2 separate regions of the Homo sapiens genome follow, and region 2 is linked to region 1. The links come from fine-mapping of genetic effects on gene expression. A gene starts in region 1. The other region holds a variant in brackets. All regions are shown on one strand. Distances are from middle to middle.

The links. PIP is the estimated chance that this variant, and not a neighbour inherited with it, causes the effect. A credible set is the group of variants that fine-mapping cannot tell apart.
Region 2: its variant is the best candidate, but not a certain one, in a credible set for the expression of GRSF1 in fetal neocortex (Walker 2019, PIP 0.54).

Annotation. Positions count from the first base shown.
Region 1 is chr4:70,837,524-70,841,913 of GRCh38, forward strand. GRSF1 (G-rich RNA sequence binding factor 1) reads right to left here and starts at 2,367. Exons shown (of 10, transcript NM_002092.4): 1 at 1,948-2,367. The coding sequence starts at 2,304. LOC124900710 (a long non-coding RNA gene) reads left to right here and starts at 1,469. Exons shown (of 3, transcript XR_007058131.1): 1 at 1,469-1,622. RefSeq lists enhancers at 1,070-1,724, 1,725-2,378 and silencers at 1,775-2,324, 2,385-2,634.
Region 2 is chr4:70,880,614-70,885,003 of GRCh38, forward strand. No RefSeq gene overlaps it. Among named protein-coding and RNA genes, the nearest start is that of MOB1B, 20 kb to the right of the region's middle. The variant A/G (reference allele first, on the strand shown) is at 2,128.

The DNA.
Region 1 (4,390 bases):
ATTTCACTCCAGCATGGGCAACAGAGCAAGACTCCGTCTCAAAAAAAAAAAAAAAAAAAGACTTGCACTCTACCGGACTAAGGACAGAGATATCTTTCTACTATCTGTCATTTTCTTTTCTTTTCTTTTTTCTTGAGACGGAGTTTCGCTCTTGTCGCCCAGACTAGAGTATAATGGCACAATCTCGGCTCACTGCAACCTCCCCGGGTTCAAAGGATTCTCCTGCCTCAGCCTCCCGGGTAGCTGGGATTACAGGCGCCCGCCACCCCGCCCGGCTAATTTTTTTGCATTTTTTTAGTAGACACGGAGTTTCACCATGTTGGTTAGCCTGCTATCGAACTCCTGACCTCAGGTGATCCACCCGCCGCAGCCTCCCAAAGTGCCGCGCCCAGCCCTATCTATAATTTTCATTAAGGCTTAATGTTAGGCCGGGCGCGGTGGCTCACGCCTGTAATCCCAGCACTTTGGGAGGCAGAGGCGGGCGGATCACGAGGTCAGGAGATCGAGACCACGGTGAAACCCCGTCTCTACTAAAAATACAAAAAATTAGCTGGGCGCAGTGGCGGGCGCCTGTAGTCCCAGCTACTCGGGAGGCTGAAGCAGGAGAATGGCGTGAACCCGGAAGGCGGAGCTTGCAGTGAGCCGAGATCATTCCACTGCACTCCAGCCTGGGCGACAGAGCGAGACTCGGTCTCCAAAAAAAAAAAAAAAAAAAGGCTTAATGTTTAGTTTTAAGGAATAAATGTAAGCAGTGTCTAACACATAGTAGATGCTCTACAGATATCACCGCAGTCAATTTCATAGAAAAAAAAAGAGAGAAGCTAGCTCACAAAGGTTTACTGGAGATGGTTTTGTTGTGGTTTTTGTAGACAACTTTCCCCATTTTTCCATAATTCCATAAGCATCACAAGCTTTTACAGAAAAAGGCAGCGTAAAGTATTGGGCCAGGATTCAAATCAATTAGCTCAGCCACTGGCAGACAGCAGCCATGCTGATTAGCCTCCCAGTCTCCCTAAGTTAAAGGAGAAGCACAAATTGAATTAAGATAAATATGACCTAAGGAATCAGGGGCTGGGTAGTTAAAAAGTGTGCAGACACTTCCCAGATGCCACGTACCAAGAAGAGAAAGGTTCATCTACAAAGCACAAAATATTTGCAATCTAACTACACACCGACTTTTCTAAAAAAATAAAGAAAAAATGGAAAGGAAAACATTGCAAATTCATTCCTGGGACCCCAAGTTGTGTCCTCAACCCTCAACGCTCCCTCCCATTCACCCCCTCCCCCCAACAGCTAAATCTCCAAACTGCTTTCCCAGACGAGGCGACACACAGTCCTTAAAGACCTTCTGTATGAGTGGAGTTGCAGAGGTGACCTTCAGTAAACCGGGACAGCTCGTCTTTCCCTGGGGACAGGAGAGGGAACGGCGCGATGGGGACAGGCTCCTTCCCTACAAGCCAGCCCACGCAACTGTGTGCGCGCACCTTCCCAGCAGCGGCCGACCGAGAGGCGCCGAGGGCCGCCCAGGCCTAGCGCTCGGGCTGCACGGAAACTCCCAACCCTCCGGCGGGCTCGGGCCTCGCAACTTCACAACCAGCCGGCGGAAAGCAAGAAGATGCGAGGTGGGGGCGTCAGCAGCCTCACGAAACCTACCATGGGCCAGGCGGGGAACAAGGCCTCAACATTCACCCCAGCCACACTTACACTGCCCAACCGACCAGAGACTCGAGGCGAGAACAAAACAAGCAGAAGACCCGACGCCTGGGAGAGCTTCCCTTGTTCCAGGGCCCAATAGGAGCACAGGGTGGACGGGGGCGGGTGTGCGGCGAGTGTCGCGGATCCCCGGGCGTGCCCGCGAGGCGCACACGGAGGGACGGAGGGGCGCGGGGGCGCGTGCACGCGGCCCGGGAGGGATCTCGCGCCAGGTCCCTCACGGCGCCCACGTACCTGGCTGTAGCTGCGCGTCGGGACGGCGGCCGCCGCCGCCAGCGACTGCGGCAGCAGAGAGGCACGGAGGGCAGAGTAGGACGCGGCGGCCGCGGCCGCGGCAGAGGTGGCCACAGCGGGAGGCCCCGCCAGCCTCCCGGGAGGCACAGGCCCGGTCTGGAGGCCACGCGTCTGGGAGGCAGCGGCCGCGGCGGCCCCGAGCAGCAGCAGCAGGCGGCGGCGGCCCGAGACGCCCGACGGGATAGAGCCAGCGGCGGAGTAGAAGGGCAGGCAGGCGGCGCCGGTGCGCCGGCAGCTGCTGCAGTTACAGCCGCAGCCCCGGAGCAGCGCCCCGAGTACCCAGCGCGTGCCGGCCATGGACTCCGGAGGCGGCGCAGGGCCTGAAGGCAGCTGCTCCAGCAGCGATGGTGGAACGGAAGTGGAATCCAGGGCCGGTTGGGGGTGGGGTGTGCCTGGCACATGCGCCGCGGGCACTGGGTGGGGGGCCTCCGAGAGTCGGAAGGAGGTGGAGGAGAGCGCGACGCTCCGCCCAGTCTCCGCCCTTGGGCGGGGCTGCCCATGGTTTGGGCGGGGCTGCCCATGGTTTGGGCGGGGCTGCCCATGGTTTGGGCGGGGCTGCCCATGGTTTGGGCGGGGCTGCCCATGGTTTGGGCGGGGCTGCCCATGGTTTGGGCGGGGCTGCCCATGGTTTGGGCGGGGCTGCCCATGGTTTGGGCGGGGCTGCCCATGGTTTGGGCGGGGCTGCCCATGGTTTGGGCGGGGCTGCCCATGGTTTGGGCGGGGCCCGGGGAAGTGGGTGCAATCGAACTGCTCTTTTTTCAGGCGGTGGAAACTGAGGCCCAAAGTAAGTGAGGCTAGGGGCCTGGCGCAGTGACTCATTCGTAGTGACTCATTCTTGTAATCCTAGCACTTTGGCAGGCAGAGGCGGGTGGACTGCCTGAGGTCAGGAGTTCGAGACCAACCTAGGCAACACGGTGAAATCCCGTCTCTACTAAAATACAAAAAATTAGGTCGGACGCGGTGGCTCCCGCCTGTAATCCCAGCACTTTAGTAGGCCGAGGTAGGGCGGATCACCTGAGGTCAGCAGTTCAAGACCAGCCTGGCCAACATGGTGAAACTGTGTCTCTACTAAAAACACAAAAATTAGCCGGGTGTGGTGACGGGTGCCCGTAATCCCAGCTACTCAGGAGGCTGAGGCAGGAGAATCGCTTGAACCCAGGAGGCGGAGGTTGCAGTGAGCCAAGATCGTGCCACCGCACTGCAGCCTGGGCGACAGAGTGAGACGCCATCTCCAAACAAACAAACAAAAAAATTAGGTTAGGGCCATCCTGCTCTGGGTAGGGCCGAGAGCTGTAGCACAAGTCTGTGCTGCCCTGCGCTGTGCCACCGAAACCCGTGGTGTGAGTGGCTAAAGAACCCTTTCTGAAAGGAATTGTGATACCTTGGTTATAAAAAAATCGTTGGGATAATATCAGAGATTTGGTACCCCCCGAATTTGAGGTATGTGAGGAAGGAGAACTTCGTTGTTTTAAAATGAAATATAGGCCTGGCGTGGTGGCTCATGCCTATAATCCCAGCGCTTTGGGAGGCTGAAGTGAGAGGATCACTGGAGCCCAAGAGTTCCAGACCAGCCTGGGCAACATAGGGAGACCCCGTCTATACAAAAAATAAATAAAGCTGGGTGTGATGGCGTGGGCCTGTAGTCCCAGCTACTTGGGAGGCCGATTGCTTCAGCCCAGAAGGTAGAGGCTGTGGTAAGCTATGATTGCCACCACTGAACTCCAGCCTGGGTGACAGAGTGAAACCCTGTCTCTAAAAAAATAAAAGAAAACATATATATTTATTATGTACTGATAATACATAACAAAGGTGAACCCTCCCCTAATGAAACTGTATTCACAAGTGAACACACAGAGATTTGCACACACATACACAAAGACTGGTTGTGCAGCTTTTCTCCTCCTGAGCCAGGACTTGTCAAAGACAAGCAAAAGGAAGTTGTTAGAGTAAAAAATAAGAGAAAGCTAGTATTTTTAAAAACTCCTTACTGTGGAAAATGTCAAACAGAAGAGCAGAATGAATTTCCAGAACTTCATAAATTGTCAACACTTTTCAGTCTTGTTTCATCTATCCCCTACCACCATCTTCCAGACCTTATTTTCTTTGCTAGAATATTTTAAAGCAATGGGTATTACATTTAAAGTTTGACTTGTTTAACCTGGACTACTTTTAGGTAAGGAAAATTCAGTATTTCTTAGAAAACCCTTTCCCCAACCAAAAAACAAAGAACAAGAAAAAAATTGATAGGCTTGGCTCTATGAACCTGGAGTATCAAAGAAAAAGGGGTTTAGTTTTGTTTTTTGGGCTAAAATACAGTCCGACGGAGAGTATTGTCATTTTTATACAAAAACAGGGACAAAAGAAAAGGCAACAGTGCAAATAC
Region 2 (4,390 bases), 43 kb after region 1:
GAGTAGATATTTTTAGAACTATCATATTTTCTATTTGAAATTTAGTTTCATTAGCTTAGACCTGAATAAGAGGTAGAGTTCGAGTTGCAGCAATGTTGATATGCTCCGTTAATACAATGTGTGTTTTGTGTGAAAGCAACCTTGACTTTAGTTATGCCATTCCACTTAAAAAAAATAAAATGGTGTTTCTTTCATGCAGTTAAATAGAAACTTACAGACAGTCTCATATTTCATACAAAATGTAGGCCTGATTTTTCATTGACTTATTAGAACGTTTTAGTAAAGTAAAATTAAGATGAATTTTTTGGAAGGTTAATGCTGAGTAGACAGAACTCATCTATTGCTTGGTAGTCACTGGTCAGTTTTTTAAAAAGTAAAATTCTTATACTAAAAAGAGCTTATTACAAAATACACTCTCGAGCAAGAGAATAGAATTCTGTTAATATAGTGAAAAGTAAATAATCTGCTTTTCTCCTTTCAGTGTACCGTTTGATAAGAAGACTTGATTACTTTTGTCAGGAATGAGAAATAAATCCAGTTGTTGTTTTGCTTGTACTTTGTTATTTATATTCAAGAAAGTGTTTTGAGTAATTTTAAAAGCCAGAAATTATAACCATATATTTTGTTTAAAGTAACTATAATAATTTGTGTTTGTTGGATTATATCATGATGGTAAATTGCTTTCAGTAGTAGAAGCAAGCCACTTTTTTTTTTTTTTTTTTTTTGAGATGGAGTCTCACTCTGTCACCCAGACTGGAGTGCAATGGCACAATCTCGGTTCACTGCAACCTCTGCCTCCCAGGTTCAAGCGATTCTCCTGGCTTAGCCTCCTGAGTAGCTGGGATTACAGGTTCGTGCCACAATGCCCAACTAAGTTTTGCATTTTTAGTAGAGATGGGGTTTCACCATGTTGGCCAGGCTGGTCTTGAACTCTTGACCTCAAATGATCTGTCCACCTTGGCCTCCCAAAGTGTTGGGATTACAGTCATGAGTCACTGAGCCCAACCAAAGCAAGCCGTTTCTGAAATACAACATTTTTTTCAGACAGGTTGATAATTATTAAGGAACACTGATTAATTTCCTTTAGTCCCTAAATATTTGAAATACCTAATGTGCTCTTGAAACCAACTTTTAAATTCTTATCTGCCCAGCCAACTGGATCCATTACAAAACAAAGGGGATAAATGAAGAGCTAAGCTAGACAACTAGTCTACCCATTATTTCATAATAAACTGAGTAGGGAGCTTTAGGTTCTAATGCCACCCTAAAAAAAAAATGGGCTAGTGTAAGGGCTAGGCACAGTGTCACACTTGTAATCCCAGCACTTTGGGAGGCTGAGGTGGGTGGTTGGCTTGGGCTCAGGAATTTGAGACCAACCTAGTCAACATGGCAAGACCCTTGTCTCTACAAAAAAATAAAAAATAAAAAGGACTAGTATAGTATGTTCCAAAATTTTAAACTCGAGGTCTTTTCCTTCAAATTAATCTCACACAAAACCTAATAAATACTTACTATAAAATAGATAGATAAGGAGTTTTCCCTTGGTAGTCCATGTGTCAAAGTAGGTATGGTGGCAGAATTCCCACACTATGAGTTCCTTCCCCAGCAACTTCGGCTGACCCTAGGATAGTGTTTCTGAAAATCTGTTCCCTAGATTCTGTCCCTCAGAATCAAACTTACTGAAGTACTACTGTTTTACCCTGGCCAAATGTCAAGAAGATACTATATCATATGATGGTGTATTGAGGACTAACAAATAATGAAAGTTTGCTGAAATTTTTCCCACCTCAATTTTCCACTGAAAAACACCTGGTTCACTGGAAATAGCAGTGTTATATTACCAACCAGATATCTTTTGTCATCTGTGTTTATGTCTTAAGCGAAAAATGAATAATGCAGCCATTTATCCATGAGGGTCTAAAATAAATGTTTTATCTTCATAGCATAGAAAAGAGAATTAGCTGGGCATGCCTGTAGTCTCAGCTTCTCAAGAGCCTGAGACAGGAGGATTGCTTGAGCCCCGCAGTTCGAGACCAGCCGGGGCAACACAGTGAGACCTCATCTCGAAAAATAAATAAATAAAAATGCTGCCAAGAAAAATGAATTAAAAGTTGAATATCAGTGCTG[A/G]TGGTATAAAGAAATGGGCTAAACTAACAATAGAGACAATTAAATTATACTTCGCAAATCTAAATGGGGTGATTACAAAGTAGTAGTAAAGCTTATTTTAATACAGTCTATCATTACAGCTTCTTTTTAAATTACAAACCTGGTAACCTAATGCTTTAAAAAACACCATTGTTCTTCACTGCTCATCAGATCAAGCTAAGATTATTACTTAGGCTACAAAATTGGTCATGATCTAGTTCCAAGTAGATCTCAGTAGCCTTGATCCCTGCTGATCTGTACTATGTGCACTATGTCCACTGGCACAGAACTCTAAACTATTTTCTGAAGAGAAGCTTCTTGTTATTTTCTTTTTTCATGCTGTAAAAGGAGTACATGCACCATCAGAAAATGCTAAAAGAAGAAAATGAAAATCATTCCATAATATCATCACTGTTAACAAAGTGGTGTTTTACCTTGAAGAAGGAGGAACGGAGCCATGAGCCAAGGAATGCAAGTAGCCTCCAGAAGTTAGAAAATGCAAGGAAACTTTCAGGTCATCTTGTAGAGGCACCAGAAGAAACACAGCCTGATGACACCTTGATTTTAGCCCAGTTAAACTCATTTTGGATTTCTGACCTCCAGAATTGTAAGATAATAAACTTAAGTCACCAAGTTTATAGTAATTTGTTACAGCAGCAATTGGAAACTAATACAACACTGTATGAAATTTAAGGCACAGCAACCAGGTGCAGTGGCTCAATGGCTGTAATCTCAGCACTTTGGGACACCAAGGTGGGTGGATCACCTGAGGTCAGGAGTTCAAGACCAGCCTGACCAACATGTTGAAACCCCGTCTCTACTAAAAATACAAAAAATTAGCCAGGCGTGGTGGCACGTGCCTGTAATCCCAGCTACTCAGGAGGCTGAAGCAGGAGAATTGCTTGAACCTGGGAGGCAGAGGTTACAGTTGAGCCAAGATTGCACCATTGTACTCCAGTCTGGGCAACAAGAGCAAAACTCCATCTCAAATAATAATAATAAATAACAAAATGAAATTTAAGTCACAGCAGAGCAGCATTGTATTATGCCTATTTTAAAATTTATTTCGTCACTAGCATCCAATAGTTATCTTTGGCCCCTTACATTTGTTTTCTTTTTTTTTTTTTTGACACAGCGTCTTACTCTGTGGCTCAGGCTGGAGTGCAGCAGTGTGAACACAGCTCACTGCAGCCTCGACCTCCTGGGCTTAAGCAATTCTCCTGACTCAGCCTCCCATGTCACTGGGACCACAGGCACACACCACCATGCTTGGCTAATTTTTGAATTTTTTGTAGAGACAGGGTTTCACTTTGTTGCCCAGGCTGGTCTTGAACTCCTGTGCTCAAGCAGTCCTTCTGACTTGGCCTCCCAAAGTGTTGGGATTACAGGCATGAGCCACAGTGCCTGGCCTGGTAACCTTACTTTTTTTTTTTTTTGAGTTGGAGTTTCACTCTGTCACCTAGGCTGGAGTGCAGTGGTGCGATCTTGGCTCACTGCAACCTCCGCCTCCCAGGTTCAAGCAATTCTCCTGCCTCAGCCTCCCAAGTAGCTGGGACTACAGGCGCCCGCCACCATACCTGGCTAATTTTTTGTATTTTTAGTAGAGATGGGGTTTCACCGTATTAGCCAGGATGATCTGGATCTCCTGACCTCGTGATCCGCCTGCCTCGGCTTCCCAAAGTGCTGGGATTACAGGCATGAGCCACCGCGCCCGGCCAATCCCTTACTTTTTAAGAGCTTATATTTGGGAAGTTTCACATTGCTATAAAAATTTCAGTGTTTTTTTGATGACCTTGGGCTATAAATTTAGAATAGTAGCTGAATATAGAGTGAGGATGCATACCATAGACAGATGTCAGTTTTGCTCACTAATATTTATCTAACATCTGTAGAGTGCTGGGCACATGGTAAACACTCAGTAAATATGCATGGAATGAACTGAATGCATCAAGTCAAATTCATTTTTTTTTTTTTTTTTTGAGACAAGGTCTTGCTCTGTCACCTAGGCTGGACTACAGTGGCAAGATCTCAGCTCACTGCAACCTCCGGCTCCCAGGTTAAAGCAATTCTACTGCTTCAGCCTCCCAAGTAGCTGGGACTACAGGCATGCACCATCATGCCCAGCTAATTTTTTGTATTTTTAGTAGAGGCAGGGTTTCACCATGTTGGCTAGGCTGGTCTCGAACTCCTTACCTGGCTGGTCCTTTGACTTGGGCCAGGCACGGTGGCTCACGTCTGTAATCCA